Linked DNA regions of Homo sapiens. The protein of the gene in region 1 purifies or fractionates together with the protein of each later gene. This does not show direct contact. Each region holds a gene or a part of one and is shown in the gene's direction. Other genes may lie near its edges. The genes, in order: SQOR, FAM174A, TMED5 and CTDSP2.

Evidence for each region.
Region 2: the proteins of SQOR (region 1) and FAM174A purify together in Homo sapiens (co-immunoprecipitation; one large-scale study listed by IntAct). This does not show direct contact.
Region 3: the proteins of SQOR (region 1) and TMED5 purify together in Homo sapiens (co-immunoprecipitation; one large-scale study listed by IntAct). This does not show direct contact.
Region 4: the proteins of SQOR (region 1) and CTDSP2 purify together in Homo sapiens (co-immunoprecipitation; one large-scale study listed by IntAct). This does not show direct contact.

Annotation. Positions count from the first base shown.
Region 1 is NC_000015.10:45,671,961-45,677,322, forward strand, and holds part of SQOR (sulfide:quinone oxidoreductase, mitochondrial), read left to right. Parts: intron 1-1,646; coding exon 1,647-1,841; intron 1,842-4,140; coding exon 4,141-4,350; intron 4,351-5,362. UniProt on the Homo sapiens protein: Catalyzes the oxidation of hydrogen sulfide with the help of a quinone, such as ubiquinone-10, giving rise to thiosulfate and ultimately to sulfane (molecular sulfur) atoms.
Region 2 is NC_000005.10:100,561,753-100,567,114, forward strand, and holds part of FAM174A (membrane protein FAM174A precursor), read left to right. Parts: intron 1-301; coding exon 302-436; intron 437-5,362.
Region 3 is NC_000001.11:93,169,399-93,174,760, reverse strand, and holds part of TMED5 (transmembrane emp24 domain-containing protein 5 isoform 1 precursor), read left to right. Parts: intron 1-5,362. UniProt on the Homo sapiens protein: Potential role in vesicular protein trafficking, mainly in the early secretory pathway. Required for the maintenance of the Golgi apparatus; involved in protein exchange between Golgi stacks during assembly.
Region 4 is NC_000012.12:57,838,897-57,844,258, reverse strand, and holds part of CTDSP2 (carboxy-terminal domain RNA polymerase II polypeptide A small phosphatase 2), read left to right. Parts: intron 1-497; exon of another isoform or gene 498-2,000; intron 2,001-5,362. UniProt on the Homo sapiens protein: Preferentially catalyzes the dephosphorylation of 'Ser-5' within the tandem 7 residue repeats in the C-terminal domain (CTD) of the largest RNA polymerase II subunit POLR2A.

The DNA of each region.
Region 1 (5,362 bases):
ATTCCCAGGGAAGCAACTCTGACTAGATGAGGGGTCAAAACCACCCTTTTTGACGCAGGTTTTCCTGAAAGGAGCTTGGTTACCACTTTACGGCAACTTTTCCATCAACGACAGCTTCTTAAAACTAGAGAAAACTAATGAAGGTGATAAGACATCAACTGCTTGTTTCTGCTTGTTTATCTCTTGGATAGTGAGATTTGCTTTGGGAACTAGAAGGTATGGCGGTCCTGTGCGAAGACCCCCAGGCAGGTGGGCAGAGGCCTTGGTGTCTGGTTCTTTAAGATTCTGGGCAGGGCTCCATCCATTCTAGGGGTTAATATTCCCCTGCCTCCCTCAGAAGTACATAGTGAATATCCATTGTTAGCATTGATGTGAAACTTTGAAAACATTTAAATGCAAGGTGATTTTATAATAATAATGATATTATTATTGAGACTGCCAATGTTACTACTATCTAACTGTAACAGGGGTGAACAGTAACAAATAGTTGCTTTTAACATTGAGTGTGATAAGTAATGAACTCAGGCCACTGAGGAGATGAGAGGACTCTGTTTCCTTGAGACCTCAGGGATAAGTGTCTGGAGTGACTTTGGAGGTGGCCCAGAGAATGGGCTGGGGAGGCTCTGAAGGACCAGGCCATCTTGATGACTGTTTCTTGATGATTGAAGTTGAACCTGCTCTTGCTGAGAACTGAGGCTTAAGTCTCTTTAACTCAGTCTGTGACATCTTCATTGCACTCTACGAGCCTTCTAACATTTATAATAGGTGTCTAGTTGATCTTATTGGCAATAATCAGCTAACATTTACAGGACATTTGCCATGTGCATGTGTCCTGTACATGCATGGCCTCATTTGCTTCTGCCTACAACCCTGTGAAGCAGATACCTTATCCCCATTTCACAGATGGTGAACGTTAGGATTCTCAAACCTGAGTGTGCATCTGAATCAGCTGGAGGGCTTGTTAAAACACAGATTGCTGGGCCTGCTCCCAGTTTCTGATTCAGTAGGTCTAGGGTGGGGCCTGATAATCTGCATTTCTAGCAAGTTCCCAGGTGGTGCTTGTGCTGCTGGTCTGAGCACCACACTTGGAGACCTACTGGCTTAGAAGTATTAGGTAATTTACACAGGGTCACAATGCTAGTAAGTGGAAGAGCCAGGACTCAAACTGGTATGTGGGATCCTAAAGTCCATGTTTTTAGGCACCTGGCTTTAGTGCCTTTATCTAGAGTTTGGTCTGGTACAACCTGATAAAGAGTGATTTAAGTTTGCTATTCTTGATGATATAAATGGCTCTTGGTCCTGCCAGTTGTTCTTTCCAGTGAGGCAACTGGGTCTCCTAAAAGGAAGGCTGGCTGGCGTCTTGTCCTCACTCCGATGGTGGGAAAAGTTGTATTCAAATTGTATTCTCAAGGCCAGGGAGTTGAAGGGTTCCTCTGAGCTGAGCCCATTCTGCAGTTTGACAGGTGACTACAGGTGCCACAGCTCTGGTCTTAGAACCCTCACCCACCTGCCTGCTCTAGGCATGTGGGTATTGGAGGGTAATGATAGTACTGAAATATTTGAAAGGTTGTAGAAATGGCAAAGAACAAGGACTCTAAAGACATTTGCACTTTTGTTTAAAATAATTTTTGTGTACTTTGTTGCAGATTAAAGGCCTACCTGAAGGTTTCGCTCATCCCAAAATAGGGTCGAATTATTCAGTTAAGACTGTAGAGAAGACATGGAAAGCTCTGCAGGACTTCAAAGAGGGCAATGCCATCTTCACCTTCCCAAATACTCCAGTGAAGTGTGCTGGAGCCCCTCAGAAGATCATGTACTTATCAGAAGCCTACTTCAGGAAGGTATGCTTCCTTTCTGGGGACAGAGATGAGCAGGGCGGACAGTGCTAATTCACTGATTGCAAGAATTCCATTTTATCTCTATTGTAATCCCTTTTTTATCTCGGAATTTTTATTACATGTGTACAAAATTAGTTAACTGGAAGTTTATAAAATATAAAAGAGGAGAAAATCACTCATGATCCAATTGCTTTAATAAAGCTGCAGTTTTCAATTTGACATGGCTTTCCAGCTTTTTTTCTGTATACTTAAATATGGTTACAGTCATAGTGTACATGAAAAATTTAGCTGTATTATGTAATATTAAATAGTCTTTGTTACATACTTTTTAAATGTGTGTGTAAAAGTCTACTGGATGCTGGGTGTGGTGGCTCTCGCCTCTAATCCCAGCACTTTGGGAGGCCAAGGTGGGTGGATCACCTGAGGTTAGGAGTTCAAGACCAGCCTGACCAACATGGAGAAATCCCGTCTCTACTAAAAATACAAAAAAAATTAGCTGGGCGTGGTGGTGCATGCCTGTAATTCCAGCTACTGGGGAGGCTGAGACAGGAGAATTGCTCGAACCTGGGAGGCGGAGGTTGTGGTGAGCCAAGATTGTGCCATTGCACTCCAGCCTGGGCAACAAGAGCGAAGCTCCGTCTTAAAAAAAAAAAAAAAGTCTACTGGAGAGATATGTTAGAGACTGTTTAAATATTTCCATATAGTTAGACAATTAGTTGCAGATTGTTCATTTTTATCCATAATGCTATCCACTACTTCCACTCAAGTTTAAGGTCATGAATATTTTCTGTCCCTTGGGTATACATTAAAAAAATATGATACGGAAAATGCCAATTTAAAAAGCAAAAAAATGTTCTCATAGAACTTTAAACCTTCATGAAAAGAGATATTTGGGCAGGAGGAGACTTTCTCAGCATTCTCCAAATGCTCTCTGTGTAAGAGCAGTTGTCTGCAGCTCAAGTACACCTGGCTTAAGCTTGTAAGGGAAGCTGTTCTTGCCCTCCCTGCTCTTGCCTGGGGTTTGACATTTAGTTTACCAAAGTGCGGTTTGGCTTGAGACAGTGGCAGGATTTCTAGCAGCTAGTCGTGTATGGGGACAGATGGGAAGAAGGGTGGGGAAGAACGGGCTGGGGAGTGGTTGAATGTGCTCATGGAGGCTGGGACTGATCAAGACCTTCCCCTGAGCTCTGTAAACTGCAACAACCCTGTGAGGTAGGGAATTAAAGGCAGTTCCAGTAATCATTTCTGACCCCAAGAAAGTTCATTCTGGGTCATAAAGGGCTGGCACAGCCTTTTGAGACACTTACCCACCTGAATTCTTCAAATGGTGAGATCCGGGTGAGCAAATCATGAAAGGAGCCGAGCAAAGGAAAGAAGAAGAAACCAGCTGTTTCTTCCGTCCTGGAAACTTCTTTGTGTAACTCTTTTCTCCCAAGTCTTAGATGGCCTACGAGGAAGGTTCGAGTACCATAAGATCTTAGGCATTTGGGAGAATATTGGCCTCTCTGATCTTAGGCATTTGGGAGAATATTGGCCTCTCTGAACAATATCAAGAAGGTAGGAACTCAGGGTTTTGTTGTTACTGTTTTTTAGTTTGTTTATTTTTTTTTTTTGGAGACAGAATTTTGCTCTGTCACCCAGGCTGGAGTGCAATGGTGCAATCTCAGCTCCCTGCAAACTCCGCTTCCTGGGTTCAAGCCATTCTCCTGCCTCAGCCTCCTGAGTAGCTGGGATTACAGGCGCCTGTCACCATGCCCAGCTAATTTTTATATTTTTGGTAGAGACAGGCTTGTCTCAAACCATGTTGGCCAGGCTGGTCTGGAACTCCTGACGTCAGGTGATCTGCCTGCCTCGGCCTCCCAAAGTGCTAGGATTACAGGTGTGAGGTACTGCGCCTGGCTGGAACTCAGTTTTGCTCACTGCTGTTCCCTCAGCACCTAGGACAGTATCTGGCCAACTCTAGAACTTTGTTAAATATTTATTGAGTAAATGAATACATGAATATATGAATAAACATTCCGTTCTACTCTACTCTGTCTTGACCTGGACCTAACCTTCACCTCTGGCCTTCAGCTGGACAGTGCCCACCTCAGCCCCCAACTCAAGTGTGTACTTAGTTGTATGTCATGGGCAGAACATAAGGAGGAGGCAGTGGATTGGTCTACCCATTGCTCTGCCAGGACATAATGGTGGCAAAAGCTAGCAAGGTCCCTGCTGAGGGTTTTAATTCTTGTCTGGATTAAAAAAAAAAAAGGCAGCTGCAGTCATGCTTTGGTGTGAATGGTTTTCTTATTTTTCTCAGACAGGGAAGCGATCCAAGGCCAATATCATTTTCAACACTTCTCTTGGAGCCATTTTCGGGGTTAAGAAGTATGCAGATGCCCTGCAGGAGATCATCCAGGAGCGGAACCTCACTGTTAACTACAAGAAAAACCTCATTGAAGTCCGAGCCGATAAACAAGAGGCTGTATTTGAGAACCTGGACAAACCAGGAGAGACCCAAGTGATTTCAGTGAGTGGTGAGGCTAAGCTGTCAGCATGAAGCGTTGTCTGCTGAAACGTGCCATAGATACATGGGGGCTCACACCACCCTATCTGCCATCATTGTGTGCTGGGGAAGACTGGGTGAAATGAGCATCTTAGGGAAGTGTTAGGGCAAGAAGGTAGGCCAAAATGGTTGGGGAAGAGAAAGATGTAAGAGGCTGTGTCAGTGGGAGGTGAGAAGGTGTCGTTAGCTGGTGCCAAGTGAATTTTTGTCCTATTCCTTTGACTCAACTTTTCCTGGCATCGAGTCACTTGAGGTAGCCAAAAATATTCCACAACTTTGGTTACTGTGTAGAGGTAAGGGAGGGCTTCCTCGAATGCAAGATCTGGTGATTGTCTCAATTGGTGGCATGTGAGAAACAGTCCTGCTTGTGAGCAGGAAGTAACCCTGTGGGTAGTTGAAGAAAACAGGGATTGGCTGGGCATGGTGGCTCACGCCTGTAATCCCAGCACTTTGGAAGGCCAAGGCAGGTGGATCACTTGAGGTCAGGAGTTCGAGACCAGGCTGGCCAACATGGTGAAGCCCCATCTCTACTAAAAATACAAAAATTAGCTGGGCGTGGTGGCACATCCCTGTAATCCCAGCTACCCGGGAGGCTGAGGCAGGAGAATCGCTGGAACCCAGAAGGCGGAGGCTGCAGTGAGCCGAGATTGTACCACTGCACTCCAGCCTGGGTGACAGAGTGAGACTCCGTCTAAAAAAAAAAAAAAAAAGAAATAATCTCAAACTTAGAGAAGTTACAAAATAAAAATAGTACAAAGAAAATTGTATGTAGCTTTTACCTAGATTCACTTGTAGAATTTTACCATTTGCTTTAGCTTTATCATTTGATTTCTTCCTTCCTTCCTTCCTTCCTTCTTTCCTTTCTTTCTTTCTCTCTTTCTTCTATCTGCCTTTGTCTATCTATCTATCCATCCATATCTAGTTTTTCCAAGGAAATTTACATATATCATGCATCAGCTCTCTTTAGCCCCAAATA
Region 2 (5,362 bases), on another chromosome or scaffold:
TTAAGGTTTAAAGTACGGTACCTGAATTTAAGGCTTAAAAGTTATTTGTCAACACCATCAGTTGACACAGAGAGAAGAGAGTATGTCAGACAGAAGAAACAGGCGATGGCACATAAACATGTAGGAGTAGGTTTTGTTTCATGAAGTTTAATCCTAGGTGGTAAATTTGTTGCATATCTGAAATGTAACCATTCTGATATTGTTTGCTATGTCAGAAACAGAATAATAATTTATTTTATAAATAAATATAAACTATGCCATATTAAATAATTTTTATTCATTAATTTGTTCTATTTGATAGGATGAGAAGAAGAAACCGAAAGACTAGGAGATATGGAGTTTTGGACACTAACATAGAAAATATGGAATTGACACCTTTAGAACAGGATGATGAGGATGATGACAACACGTTGTTTGATGCCAATCATCCTCGAAGGTAAGTATTCCAGTAGTTTAATTCCATGAATCAGGAAGCAAGTCCTTGCCAAGTAAACTGAAGAAGTAAAGTAGACTTTCATTTAACAGCTTATATTCCAACACAGTTTCTTCAGTTCTGTTTACTGAAGTTCTTTTTGCTATCTACCCCATAGCTCACATTCACGTTGTTTTGCTCAAATAGATACAAACAATAGAATACCATCTCAAAATATTTTTTTTAATTTATTCTTCTGTTTTTATCTTTTATTTTAAGTTCAGGGGTACAAGTGCAGGGTCGTTACATAGGTAAACTTGTGTCATGTGGTTTTGTCGTACAGATTATTTCATCACCCAGTTATTAAGCCTAGGACCCATTAACTTCTTCATTCTTGCAATATGTATTAACTTGGGTGTGTGTGTGCATGTGTGTTTGTGTGCGTGTGTGTTTGTGTGTGTGTGTGTGAGAGAGAAATACTTATTAAATTTAATTTCCTTTTTGTATTCTGAAGATATTTTCTTTTTAGTTTGGGTTCTAGTGTTTGTAAATAGTGCTGCCTTGCAGAATTGGGGGACTAATTGTTTATGGTCTGATCATGTAGCTGTAATATATATACTGAGATCTATTCTCAGTAAGTGTTAAGACCTTTCCTAAGAGGTTTAGATAAATAAAATGACATGAGTATAGAATAAATGCCAATGTAAATAGAATGGGGAAAAAAGCCAACAAAGATTCAACCTAATAAGGAAAGACATCTTGGAATCCAGAGGGATTACTTGGGTGAAGGAGAATTAGAGTCCAGAGTCAGGTACAAATGCAAAGAAAACAGAAATCTTAGGATTACAGAAAAGAAGATGACTCAACAAAAATTGGACTACTAAGTCCTGTATATCTATATTTATATCTATATATGTCTATCCATCTATCTATCTAAGCTGTTTATATATATGCACACACACAAAGGAACTTTTAGTAATGCTGATAATTTGTTCATTTAATACAAATATGTTCATGAATTATACATTTTAATAGTATTACAGCCTGAATAGGCAAACATGAACAAAACAATTGCATCTGTTCTTCAGGCACTCACTTTCAATTAAAGACGCATATAAGATGAAAGAAAAGGGACAGAAACTGATATTCCATGCAAATGGTAACCAAAACAAAGCAGGGGTTGCTAAATTTATATCAGACAAATTAGATTTTAAGTCAAAAACTATCTCTTGAGACAAAAAAAAAAAAGATCATTACATAGTAAAGGAGTCAATTCACCAGGAAGATATGACAATTAGTATGACTCTATCAGAGCACCTAAATTATAAAGCAAATATTGACAGATCTGAAGTAGGAAATTGACAGCCATAAAATAATTTATGGGACTTTAATATCCCACTTACAATAATGAATAGACTATCTAGACAGAAAATCAATAAAGAAACCTCTGACTTAAACAACACTGTAGACCAGTGGACCTGACAGACATATACAGAACTTTGCACCCAACAGCAGAAGAATTCACATTCTTCTCAAGTGCCCATGGGATGCACTCTGAGATAAATCATCTTAGGTCACAAAACAAGTCTTAACAACTTTAAGAAGATTGAAATTATTCCAAGTGTCTTTTCCAACCTCCATGGAATAGAAATAGAAATCAATAACAGCAGGAAAACAGGAAAAATTATAAATATGTGGAAACTAAACGATATAGTTTGAATAAACCTCCAGGCCAAATCTCATGTCAATTGTAACCCTCCATGCTGAAATTGAAGCCTGGTCAGAGATGTTTGGGTCATGGGGACTGATCCCTCATGGCTTGGTGCTGTCCTTGTGATAGTGAGTTCTTGCAAAATGTGGTTGTTTTAAGTGTGTAGCACCTGCTCCTCCTTGCTCCTATATTTGCCGTTTGAAGTACCTGATCCCATTTCACCTTGCACCATGAGTAAAAGCTCCCTGATATATGCTCAGAAGCCAAGCAGATGTCAGCACCATGCTTGTATAGTCTGCAGAACCACGAGCCAATTAAACCTCTTTTCTTTATAAATTACCCAGTCTCAGGTATGTCTTTATAGCAATGAAAGAATGGACTAATACACTGAACAACACACTCTTGAGCAATTATTGGGTCAAATAGGAAATCAAAGGGAATTTTAAGAGCTATTTTGAGACAAAAAAAAAATGGCATAACAAAACTTATGGGATGCAGCAAAAGCATTGCTAGGAGAGAAGTTTATAGCAATAAATGCTTATGCTATGAAAGAAGAAAGACTTCAAATAAACAACCTAGCTTTACCCTTTCAGAAAGTGGCAAAAGAAAAACACTTTAAGCCTAAGCCTAAAATTAGCAGAACGAGGGAAATAATTAAGATTATAATAGAAATACATTAAATAGAGTTGAAAAAGACAATGAGAAAAATCAATAAAATTAAGATTTTGCGTATAGAAAAGATAAAATCAATAAACCATTAGCTAGACTAAGCAAAAAAGAAAAGGCTCAAATAAATAAAATCAGAAATAAAAGAGAAGAAATTACAATGGGTACCTCAGAAATTAAAGAAGACATGAGACTACTATGAACAATTATATGCCAACAAATTTGATAACCTAGAAAAATAGATAAATTCCTAGAAACATACAATCTATGAAACTTGAATCAAAAAGAAATTCGAAGTCCAAACAGACAAGTAACAAATAAGGAAATTGAATCAGTAGTCAAAACCTTCCAACAAAGAAATGTCCAAGACCATATGGCTTCATGGGTAAATTATACCAGACATTTAAAGAAGAATTAATACTCGTCCTTCTCAAATTATTCTGACAAATAGAAGAAGAAGCACTTTAAAACTCATTTTATGAGGCTAGTGTTATCCTGATACCAAAGCCAGACGAAGGAAAGCAAACCGCAGGCCAATACTCCTGATGAACATGATACAAAAGTCCTCAATAAAATGCTAGTTACCCAAATTCAGCAGCATATTAAAATGATGATACACCATGATTAAGTGGGATTTGTCCCTGGAATGCAAATATCTTTCAACACATGCAAATCAATGCAATAGAACACATTAATAGGTTGAAAGAAAAAAAGCCACAAGATCATTTCAGTAGACACAGAAAAAGCATTTGACAGTGCTATCCACATAGACAAATGAGGTTGCATCAAACTAAAATGCTTCTGCACAGCCAAGTAGATAATCATCAGAGTGAAAAGGAACTTTAATAATGGGACAAAATATTTATAAACCATATATGTATATACATATATATATGAGTTAATATCCAAAATTTATAAGGAGTGCATGTAAGTTAATAGCCAAAAATCTCACATAATCTGATTTTAAAATGGGCACATGACCCCTGTACTCTGTTGGTGGGAATGTAAGTTGGCACAGCTGTTATGGAAAGCAGTACAGAAATTCCTCAATAAATTAAAAATATAATTACCTTATGATTTAGCAGTTTTGCTGCTGGATATATATCCAAAGGAAACCATTATTACATAGAGAGATCTGCACTCCCATGTTCACTGCAGCATTATTCATATTAATCAAGCTGTGGAAATAACCTAAATGTGCATTGACAGATGTATTAGTCCGTTTTCATACTGCTTGGAAGAAATATCGGAGACTGGGTAATTTATAAAGAAAAAGAGGTTTAATGGACTCACAATTCTGCATGGCTAGGGAGGCCTCACAATCATGGCAGTAGGCAAAGGAGGAGCAAAGGCACATCTTACATGATGGCAGGCAAGAGAGCATGTGTAGGGGAACCACCCTTTATAAAACCATCAGATTTCATGAGACTTATTCAATATCATAAGAACAGCATGGGAAAAACTTGCCCCTGTGTTTCAATTACCTCCCACCAGGTTCCTTCCATGATACCTGAGGATTAAGGGAGCTACAATTCAAGATGAGATTTAGGTGGGGGCACAGCCAAACCATATCAACAGATAAATGAATTTGAAAAGTATGATATATATATATATATATATATATATATATGTACATATAATATATATAATTACATGTATGATATACTATTGAATATTATTCAGCCTTAAAAAAAAGAAAATCTGGACATTTGCAACAACATGGATGAACATGGAGGAATTTATGTTATTTGAAACAATCCAAACATAGAAAGACAGATATTGCATTATCTCACTTATATATGGAATCTAAATAGTCAAGCTTATAGTAGTGAATAGAGTAGGGGTTAACAGGGGCTGCAGAGAAGGGAAAACAGGAAGATGTTAGTCAAGGGATCCAAAATTTTAGTTATGCAAAATGAGTAAGTTCATTTATGCAAGATGAATAAGCTATGCAAGATGAATAACTTGTACAGCAATGTGAATATAGTTAACAATACAATACAGTAGTGTATACTTTTAAGTTTGCTAGGAGGGTAGATGTTAAGTGTTCTTGATACACACAAAAATATGTTAATCTCAAGAGGTGATGGATATGTTGATTAGCATGATTGCAGTGATTGTTTCACGTAGTATATGCACATCATGCACATCATAACATCATAACATTAAGGTAAACACCTTAAGCATATCCAATTTTTATTTACCAATTATACCTCAGTAAAGATGGAGAAATAAAAAGTTCATGAAACAGTTGTAATCTATGCTAATCATCAATTCTATAGACCATAAAAAGTCATTTTGAAAATTTTAAGACAAGGGAAACTTTGATTACAAAGTTACGTTTTGAAGATTACCCTGACTGCATGGGTTGAAGGAGACCACGATAAAGAGTAAGGTGACAAAGAAGAAAAGTAGTTAGATGGTGCAAATGCATGGGATGACTTGCATTACAGTTACAGCAGGAAAGGCAGAGAGGAGTGAATTATTTAAGCAGCTTTGGAAGGTATTAATTACCTTCCTTAATTACCATCTTAACCAAGATGTAGGTCCTGTTTCGAAAGTGAAAGAACAAG
Region 3 (5,362 bases), on another chromosome or scaffold:
ACAGAAACAGAAAACTAAATACCACGTGTTCTCACTTAGAAGTGAGAGCTAAATGGTAAGAACTTATGAACACAAAGACGGAAACAACAGACACTGGGATTTACTTGAGGAGGGAGGGTGGAAGGACAGAGAGGCACAGAAAAGTTAACTATTGGGTACTGGGCTTTATATCTGGGTGATGAAATACTAAGTTGGTGCAAAAATAATTGTGGTTTTTAACACGTTTACCTATGTAACCTTCACATGTATCCCCAAGCCTAAAATAAAAGTTAAAAAAAAGAGAGATATGGGGTCTCACTATGTTGCCTAGGCTGAATTTGAATTTGGGCACAAGTGATACTCCCACTTCAACCAGCCTCCTGGGTAGCTGGGACTACAGGCACATGCCACCACACCTGTCTCCTTTATGAATTTTTTTACTTCCAATTATAAAAGTAATATACAACCTCCTTAGAGTAAGTCAAACAATACAAAGATGTAAAAGCAAAAAAAGCTGGGTGCGGTGGCTCACACCTGTAATCCCAGCATTTTGGGAGGCCAAAGTGGGTGGATCACGAGGTCAGGAGTTGGAGACCAGCCTGACCAACATGGTGAAACACCATCTCTTAAAAAAAAAGAAAAAACAAAAAACAAAAATTAGCTGGGCGCAGTGGTGCGCGCCTGTAGTCCCAGCTACTCGGGAGGCTGAGGCAGGAGAATCACTTGAACCCGGAAAGCAGAGATTGCAGTGAGCCGAGATCGTGCTGCTGCACTCCAGCCTGGGTGACAGAGTGAGACTCCATCTCAAAAAAAAAACAAAAAAAAACCTCTTTGTAACTCTATTGAATGCCTGTTGTCATTCTCCTAGATGTGAACTCTTCCACACCTTTTCCCATACTCATAAAAACATATAGGGTTTGATGGGGTGAAACACATATGATTATTTAATTAAAATGTCATGGTCTTTAAGTCCTTACAAAGTTTTTACCAATAGGTAAACAAACCAAATCAGTTTTTAATAAGGAAGTCTATTGGTTCATATAACTGGAAGTCTGAATAGGACTGATTTCAGGCTTAATTTGTTTTCCTCTGGTTCTTACGGCTCTGCTCTCTTGACTTTTCTTAAAGAATTGAATTACTTAAAGAATTCTTCACTGACAGATATTTTTCCTAAATGCATCAAAACTAGTATTTTATTGTCTTCTGACTTCGATTATAGCTGTTGAAGCTTCCTGTCAGTTTGTTATATATTTGTAGTTCATCTCTATTTTCTCTTGTAGCTTTTTAAATTTTCTGCTTCTGCATTTTCACTGCAGTTTAAGTGGATCATCCAAGCTTCTTAATCTCTCATAATTTCTCTCTTTGTCTCACTCTCCTATTTTATGGATAATTTCTTCAGCTCTATCTTCTACATCATTAGCTTTAAAAATTTATTATCAGTATTATTTTTGATTGGCAAATTATAATTGTATACATTTATGCGGTATAGCGTGATGTTTTGATACATATATACAACATGTAATGATTAAATCAGGCTAATTAACATTGCCTTGCCTATAATTTTTTATGATGAGCTATTTGAAATTCAGTCTCAGTTATTTTGAAATATACATTATTATTGACCATAGTCACCTTCCTGTGCAATAGATCTCAAAACCTATTCCTTCTGTCTATCAGAAACTTTGTACTCTGTGATCAACAGCTCCCTATTCCCTCTCTCCCCAAGTCCCCCACCCCCAGCTTCTGGTAACCATCGTTCTACTCTCCACTTTTAGGAATGGAACTGTATGGAATTCTAGGAATTCCACATATGAGATAATGCAGTATTTGTCTTTCTGTCCCTGGCTTATTTCACTTAGTGTAATGTCCTCCAGTATTCCATTGTGTATCTATACCACATTTTCTTTATTCATTCATTAATGGACACTTAGGTTGTTTCTATGTCTTGACTATTGTGAATAATGCTTCAATGAATATGGGAGTGCAGATATCTCTTTTACATACTGATTTCAGTTCCTTTGGATGTATACCAGAAGTGAGATTACTAGATGATATGGTAGTTGTATTTGTGGTTTTTTGAGGAACCACCATATTGTTTTCCATAGGGCTGTACTAATTTACATTCCCACCAACAATGTACTAATTTGTTTTTTCTTTTTTGAGATGAGGTCTTGCTGTGTAACTCCGCTGGTCTCAAACTCCTGGGCTCAGGATCCTCCCATCTCAGCCTCCTGAGTAGCTGGGATTACTGGGATTATAGATCTTGTACATATTTTGGTAGATTTGTACCTAATTCTTTTTTTCTTTTTTTTTCTTTTAGTGCTAACGTAAATGGTATTGTATTTTTTATTCCCAACTCCAGTTGCTTGTTGCTGGTGTATAGGAAAGCAGTTGACTATTGTATGTTAATATTGTATACTGAGACTTGGCTATCATCACTTATTAGTTCCGGGACGGGTTTTTTTTTGGCAGTTCTTTAGGATTTCTACATGGACTATCACAAGGACAGTTTTATTTCTTCTTTTCCAATAGGTATGTCTTTTCTTTCCCTTTCTTGTTGTATTACATTAGCTCGAGCTTCCAGTATAGTGCTGAGTAGGAGTAATGAGGGAGTAGCATCTTTGTCTTGTTTCTGATTTTAGTGAGAAAGCTTCTAGTTTCTCGCCATTAAGTGTGATCTTAGCTGTAGGATTTTTGTAAATGTTCTTAAGTTGAGGAAGTTCCCCTCTATTCCTAGTTTGCTAAGATTTTTTTAATATTAAATATCATGGATTGATATTGGATTTTATCAAATATGTTTTCCATACCCATTGCTGTGATCATCTGAGTTTTCTTCCTTAGCCTGTTGATGTGATGAATTACACAAAATAATTCATGAATGTTGAGCCAGGCTTATATACTTGGAACAAATCCATCTGGTCATGGTTGTAATTCTTTGTTTACATTGTCGAATCAGCTTTGCTAATATTTTGTTGAAGATTTTTGCATCTGTGTTCCTAAGAGATACTGGTATGTAGTTTCCATTTCTTGTAATGTCTTTTCTGGTTTTAGAATTAGGGTAATGTTGGCCTCACAGAATGAGTAAAGAATTGTTCCCTCAGCCTTTATTGTCTGTAAGAGATTTTAGAGAATTGGTTTCATTTTGTCCATAAATGTTTGGTAGGATTCACCATTGAAACTGTCTGGTCCTGGTCCTTTCTTTTGGGGGAGGTTATTAATTATCAGTATAATTTCTGTAACAGATACAGGCCTATTCAGGTTATCTATTTCTTGTATGAGTTTTGGTACTTTATATCTTTCAAGGAATTGGCCTGTTTCATCTAAGTTTTCAAATTTGTGGGTATAGATTTATTAATAATGTTCCACTGTGTCCGGAATTGGCGGGTTCTTGGTCTCACTGACTTCAAGAATGAAGCCGCGGACCCTCGCGGTGAGTGTTACAGTTCTTAAAGGCAGCGTGTCCGGAGTTTGTTCCTTCTGATGTTCGGATGTGTTCGGAGTTTCTTCCTTCTGGTGGGTTTGTGGTCTCGCTGGCTCAGGAGTGAAGCTGCAGACCTTTGCAGTGAGAGTTACAGCTCTTAAGGTGGCGTGTCTGGAGTTGTTCGTTCCTCCTGGTGGGTTTGTGGTCTCGCTGGCTTCAGGAGTGAAGCTGCAGACCTTCGTGGTGAGTGTTACAGCTCATAAAGGCAGTGTGAACCCAAAGAGTGAGCAGCAGCAAGATTTATTGCAAAGAGCAAGAGAACAAAGCTTCCACAGTGTACAAGGGGACCCCAGCAGGTTGCCACTGCTGGCTGAGGCAGCCTGCTTTAATTCTCTTATCTGGCCCCACCCACATTTCGCTGATTGGTCCATTTTACAGAGAGCTGATTGGTCTGTTTTACAGAGAGCTGATTGGTCTGTTTTGACAGGGTGCTGATTGATGTGTTTACAATCCCTGAGCTAGACAACAAAAGTTTTCCACTAGATTAGCTAGATACAGAGAGTGTGGATTGGTGTATTTACAAACCCTGAGCTAGACACAGAGTGCTGATTGGTGTATTTAAAATCCCTTAGCTAGACATAAAGATTCTCCAAGTCCCCACCAGACTCAGGACCCCAGCTGGCTTCACCCAGTGGATCCCGCACCTGGGCCGCAGGTGGAGCTGCCTGCCAGTCCCATGCCGTGCGCCTGCACTCCTCAGCCCTTGGGCGGTTGATGGGACTGGGTGCCGTGGAGCAGGGAGTGGCGCTCTTCGGGGAGGCTTGGGCCGCGCAGGAGCCCACAGTGGGGGGCTGAGGGGAGGCTCAGGCATGGCGGGCTGCAGGTCCCAAGCCCTGCCCCGCGGGGAGGCAGCTAAGGTCCTGCGAGAAATCGAGCACAGCAGCTGCTGGCCCAGGTGCTAAGCTTCTCACTGCCCAGGGCTTGCAGGCCGGCCGGCCGCTCCCAGTGCGGGGCCGCGGAGCCCACGCCCACCCGGAACTCGAGCTGGCCCGCAAGCATCACGCGCAGCCCCAGTTCCCACCCGCGCCTCTCCCTCCACACCTCCCGGCAAGCTGAGGGAGCCGGCTGCGGCCTTGGCCAGCCCAGAAAGGGGCTCCCACAGTGCAGCGGCGGGCTGAAGGGCTCCTCAGGCGTGGCCAGAGTGGGCGCCAAGGCCAAGGAGGCGCTGAGAGCGAGCCAGGGCTGCCAGCATGCTGTCACCTCTCACCACTATTATCCTTTTATTTATATTTTTTAAGATGGAGTCTTGCCATCACCCAGGCTGGAGTTCAGTGGCACGATCATACCTCACAGCAGCCTTGAACTTCTGGGCTCAAGTGATCCTCTCACCTCAGCCTCCCAAGTAGCTAGGGAGGCATGCACCACCATGCCTGCCTAATTTTGTGTGTGTGTGTGTGTGTGTGTGTGTGTGTGTGTGTACAGACAGGGTCTCACTTTGCTGCCTAGGCTAGTCTCAAACTCCTGGCTTCAAGTGATCCTCCCATCTCAGCCTCCCAAAGTGCTGAGATTACAGGCATTGGCCACCACGCCTGGCCATTATTATCTTTTTAATGTCCATAGATAATTAATGATGACCCAGCTTTTATTTCTGATATTAGTGTTCTGTGTCTTTTCTCTTTTTTTTCTTGGTTTGCCTGACTAGAGGTTTGTTAGTTTTATTGATCTTTTTAAAAAACCAGTTTTTTGCTTCATTGATTTTTTTTTTTCTGCGTTGATTTCTTGTTATCAATTTTCTTGATTTCTGCTCTAATGTTTTTCTTCTGGTTGTTTTAGGTTTGTATTACTGTTCTTTCTCTGGCTTCCTAAGGTGGATGTCTACATTATTGATTTTACATCTTTCTTCTTTTCTAATAAGTTCATCCAATGTTATAAATTTCCCTCTAGGCACTGATTTCTCTGTAT
Region 4 (5,362 bases), on another chromosome or scaffold:
TGTGTGTGGTTTAAGCCAGCAGCCACTGGGTCTCTCCCTCCCCATGTAATTTTTTATTTTAATTGAGATGGAGTCTTACTCTGTTGCCCAGGCTAGAGTGCAGTGGCGCAATCTCAGCTCACTGCAACCTCCGCCTCCTAAATTCAAGCAATTCTCCTGCCTCAGCCTCCCAAGTAGCTGGGATTACAGGCGCGCGCCATCACGCTTGGCTAATTTTTTTGTATTTTTTAGTAGAGACAGGGGTTTCGCCAGTTGCCCAGGCTGGTCTCGACTCCTGAGGTGATCAGCCCCCTTCGGCCTCCCAAAGTGCTGGGATTACAGGCGTGAGCCACCGCGCCCGGCCCCTCCCCATGTAATTTGATTGCATTCCAGAGAAGACAGACTTTCTTCCTGGGCTGCTTAGGCACCCAGCAACCACTAAACCAACTTTCTGAGTCCCACATCATTTACAAACAAAACCTACGTCTTCAAAACAAAACAAAAAACAAAAGCTGGGGGACTGGGGAAGCAGATGTTTTAATTGGCTCCTTTTGGAGTTCCTTCTTCTCCCCACTCCGTCCTCTCCACAACATCCCATCTCCATGCCTTGCCTGCCTTTGGAAAAAGGGGAAGAAGGAGTGTGAGGTACTTATTATTAATAAGTAAATTTCTGGAAAGAAACAAATTGCTCCTAGCTTGGGTGGCTATTTAGTGAAGTTACTTGCCATTGCGGGTTTTTTTTTTCTTTTTTTAGCATTCTGTTCTCTGAGGTTTAAGGCTGTCTGGGTGCGTTGATGATTCAAAAGTAATTACAGTAGGGGAAGTAGAACAAAGTTGCTGAAAGCATTGATGATAAAAGCACCAAAATTGGATCATCTTCCCAGACAGATGGGTGAAATGGCTTTCTGGTACAGCAAGGACAGGATTGTGTGTAACATCAAAAAGAAAAAAGAAATGTTAATATCAGCTTGGCAAGAATGGCTGTTGATTGCAGCTCTATATGAGATTGTCACCCCATTGCTAAGAGGTTGTGACCTTGGCTTTGGGATTAGATGGGGGAAAGCCAAGGAAACAAGACCCACGCTGTAACCTCCCAACGTGAAATGAGACCTGGTGGAGGCAGCCTCTTCCGGAGCTCAGTGACCCACACGCCTTTTGGAGGAATCAGAGATTTTTTTGTTGTCCATGAATCCTGATGCCCCTTCCTCTCGATGATGCCCTGGATTACCTTCTCACATGCCGAACTGGACAGGTTCTGATAGCTAATTGCAAGGATTCTTCTGAGAGACTGACCATCTCTGAAAATTACGATGTGGCAAGTTTTCAGGATGGCTAGCTCTTTTGTTATCCGCATAAGGGAGAAATTCTGCCTTATTCCCTCAAAAAGTTGTTCAGACACCGTTCACTGTAGATGTAGGCAAGCCTTTAACTTGAAAAGCTTAGACATGAATCTTGCTGGAGCTTCCTTCCATAGCTTGCTATGCAGGGGGCGGGAAGCCTGCATGTTTATAGCTGGCTCCTCCTCCTGCCCTGCTGGTGCCTCTCACCTTCCTTTGCCTACCCTGGGTCTTGGCCTCTTTGTGCTCTCACAGTGACTGCTGAGGCTCCCTCCTGCATCTCCTTTGGAGTTTTTCCCCCATCTTTGGGTAAGGGTTGCAGCCTGCGTGGTGACTTAAGCTTGTGTTTGCTCCTGTCCCCAAAATTGCAGAGGAGCGCTGATAAATCAGCAACAAAGTTTGTAAATGCCTAACATCTGGGGCTGGGGGTTTGCAGTTGACTTGCAGAGCTTTCCACTGAGCAGCACTGGAATTGCTGTGAAAAATCCCTCGGAGGATGGCAGAGGTGGGGGTGTTCCTTTGTCCTCTCTTCTCAACCGTAGAGGTCTTAAAGAAACTGGGTAGCAGAGAGGTGTCATTTCATCCTTTCCATGGGACCTTCCAAATCCCTTATCATGGATTTTGTTAAAATGGTAAATACTAAAGAAGTCACATTTCTAGCCAACGTGAATTGATGCTCCCAACCTGTGAAGAATTAAAGTGTTTGTAAATAAGCATGGAAAAGAAAGACAATATGTAAATATATATGGGATTGTGTGTATGTGTGTACATATCAATACATAGCTTCCCTTCCAATTCCTCCTACAATTTTTTTTTTCTGCTAGCTTTTGGGTAATTTGGGGTATTGTCTTTTATTCCCATCATGGTAAGTTTGGTTCTTAGATTGGACAGAGTGGGGACCAGGGTCAGGGATGGTGGTTAAAGTTTACATTGTTACTTCAAAGCATTGTTTCTGAAGCAAAATTGCTTCAGGCCTGGGTTCAAATACCTTCTTTTCCTATTTGCAATGAGACTTGATAAATCACTTTAGTATTCTGAGTAACTTATCTATAAAGTAGTAATAATGATATCTACCCTTCTATTATACTTGGTACTTAGTAGGTGCTTGATAAATATTAATGTCCTCCCTCTTTACATAGTTAGACTACTCTGTTCGCCCTCCTCCATTCCCCCAAGGACACAGTGTAAACAGCACGTAGTCTTGTGGGTTTTATTTTTCAAGACAGGTGGCCGGGGGTCAGAGGGGACACTGATTGTGGGGGCTTGGGCCTTCTGGAAGGATCAACCTCTTAGGCTTACAAACAGCCTTGCTGCACAGACCCCTTCTTTGTGTCATGTGACTTGGGATGTGATTTGTTATCTGCCTGGGCTGTGGGACTTTGGCCATTCTGTCTGGTGCCTGGGCATCTGGGGGTGGGAGAAGGCCAGGCATGTGCCCCCTGTGAGTCTCTAAAGTCTAAACTTCCTTAGAGGTTCTCAAATATGGATATAACGAATATTCAGGACAACTGTATGCTACATTCTCTCACTGTCTGCTTTGAGAGTTAATGAATTCAGAGAGATTGAGGTTTCTTTTAGGTAATTTTAATAAGAGGGGGAAAAAGAAAATGGGGTTTGAAGAGAAATAGATGTTCTTAAGCTATTTGTTTGCTCCTGTGGTTTTGGGGTACAACATTGAGAAAGTACAAAAGCAGCATTGATCTGCTTTTCATCTTGTCTTAGTCTGGCCAGCTCTGGGAAGCATGGAATTAACTCGCTTGTCTTTGGGACGTGGGATTGGGTGTGGCCCTGACATATTTCCCTCACTTTTCTGAAATGGAGTAGTAGTTCTGAACTGGGATGCAGATGAGCACATTAACACGCAAATCTTACAAAGAAAGTACTAGAAATTAAAGTGGATAAGTTGACGACTTAAAACTGGAAGCATCTCTGGACCAGAGACCAAATAGAATGGAGTTTCTTTGTCTGGCAAAATGCCCAGCCCTTCAGGTCTGAGTATGCCTGCACCAGGATCTGTTATCACAGGGTACTCCAGTGAGCGCCACAGCCTCCCTCTAGGCAAAAGTGTGTATGCCCTGTTTTATGTTAGCTATTCTAGGAGTTAGCCTTGAACCTGATCTCTGAGTGGATCTGACATTTCCATTTCCCTCCTAGGTGCTCTAGTCCTTCCCCCACCCCCATCCCCCCAAATCAGACTTTGCTCTTACTCTCTTTTTATTCTATACCTTCTTTTATTTCTTGCCACAGCTTTTTCCATCCTCTTGAATTTGCACTTTCCCATCTGCATTGTTCCCAGGGAACAAATATGGCCCCAATCCCAGTGAGAGCCAAGCAGACTCATGGAAAGGCTCAAATTGCCTGCGGAAGGCTTCCTGGATAGTAGATCCCAGCTTTTCTGTTCCCGCAGCAGAATAGAGCTAGGACCCCTCTTTCACAGGAACAGGGGCCTGCAGGTAGAGACAGCAGACCCAGGTTTTCTGACTCACGTCACATAGAACTACCCCTAGAGAAGAAAACTGGATCCTAGGCATGAGTCCTCTAAGGCTTGCAGAAACACTGAGCCAGTCAGGTACGGTGGGGAGAGGGGCCAAGGGGACTTTGGCTGAATTGCCTTCTAGCCCTGGGTTAGTCAGAGACCCTGGCAACCGGTAGATACTGGCTCTCAGCCAGGGACACACATCAGAGTCTCCTGTGACACTTGCTAAAAATACAGACCCCCCACCTGGGATCTGCTGAATCAGCGCATGGGCAGGTGGGTCAGGCATGCATGTGTTCCAAATGCTCCTTGTGGCTCTGACAGGTGCCCCTGGAGAAGAGCCAGGTAGGCACAGCAGTGGCCCCAACTGCCTGTTTTGCCCCGAGCAGGAAAATTCCTCTTGGTGGTCCCGTTTTACTGTATGTTAAAGATCTGTGGCTCTTCAAGGGGAGTCCTAAAGTTTTCAGAGTAAATGGACAGAGTAATGATCCATCCTTGTTTACCCAGTAATGGTTACAGCCAATATTTATAGAGTACTTGCCATAGGCAAGGTACTATTCCTAGCATTTTATATCTCGTATCTCACTTAGTTCTCCTGACAACTTTTCCTTTCCAATAAGAGGAATTAACCTCACTTTACAGATAAGGAAAACTTTCACAGGGAGAGGGAAGGACTTTGCCCAAGGGTACATGGCTAGTGTCAGCCAGACATTTGCATTGTCTGGCATTTCACTTTTTTTTTTGAGATGGAGTCTTGCTCTGTCGCCCAGGCTGGAGTGCAGTGGCGCGATCTCGATCTCAGCTCACTGCAAGCTCCACCTCCTGGGTCTATGCCATTCTCCTGGCTCAGCCTCCTGAGTAGCTGGGACTACAGGCGCCCGCCACCACGCCCGGCTAATTTTTTGTATTTTTAGTAGAGACGCGGTTTCACTGTGTTAGCCAGGATGGTCTTGATCTCCTGACCTCATGATCCGCCCGCCTTGGCCTCCCAAAGTGCTGGGATTACAGGCTTGAGCCACCGTGCCCGGCCTAACATTTCACCTTTTAGAGTGCTTTTGAGTTCATGATTCAGGTGCATGCTTCAGGTGAAGCCACCTTTTAAGGGACCATGCAGGGGAAACCTTTCCAGATTGGCTTATGAGGAAACTGAACCCCAGAGAATTGTGCCCTAGCAAGGCCACGGAACTGTTGAAAAGCTGAACTGGAGCAAGAGCTGGGTTTCCTGACTTCTAGATCAGTACTTTCTCAAGTGGACTCACCTATACGGCTTGGCTGGTCATAGGTGAAGCTGAGGGGTGTGGGGGGAGCAGCAGAATGTCCCTGGAGATGGGTGCCTCCCTGGCAGACTCCTTCCATTCCTTCTGCAGAGGCCAGCCATATGAAGGAGGAACTGGTTGGCCAGCCTCAATGAGTGTGTATGTGTGTGTGCGACTGATTCGTTTTTGTGGAGTCCCGGAAAACATCATTTCCGGTTTGGCCCTGTTACTACCTCTGAAATGAGTTAGAAGAAATCTCTATGGTCCCTTTAATGTGAACATTTTGAGATGGAGACTGAGGTAAGAGTATGAAA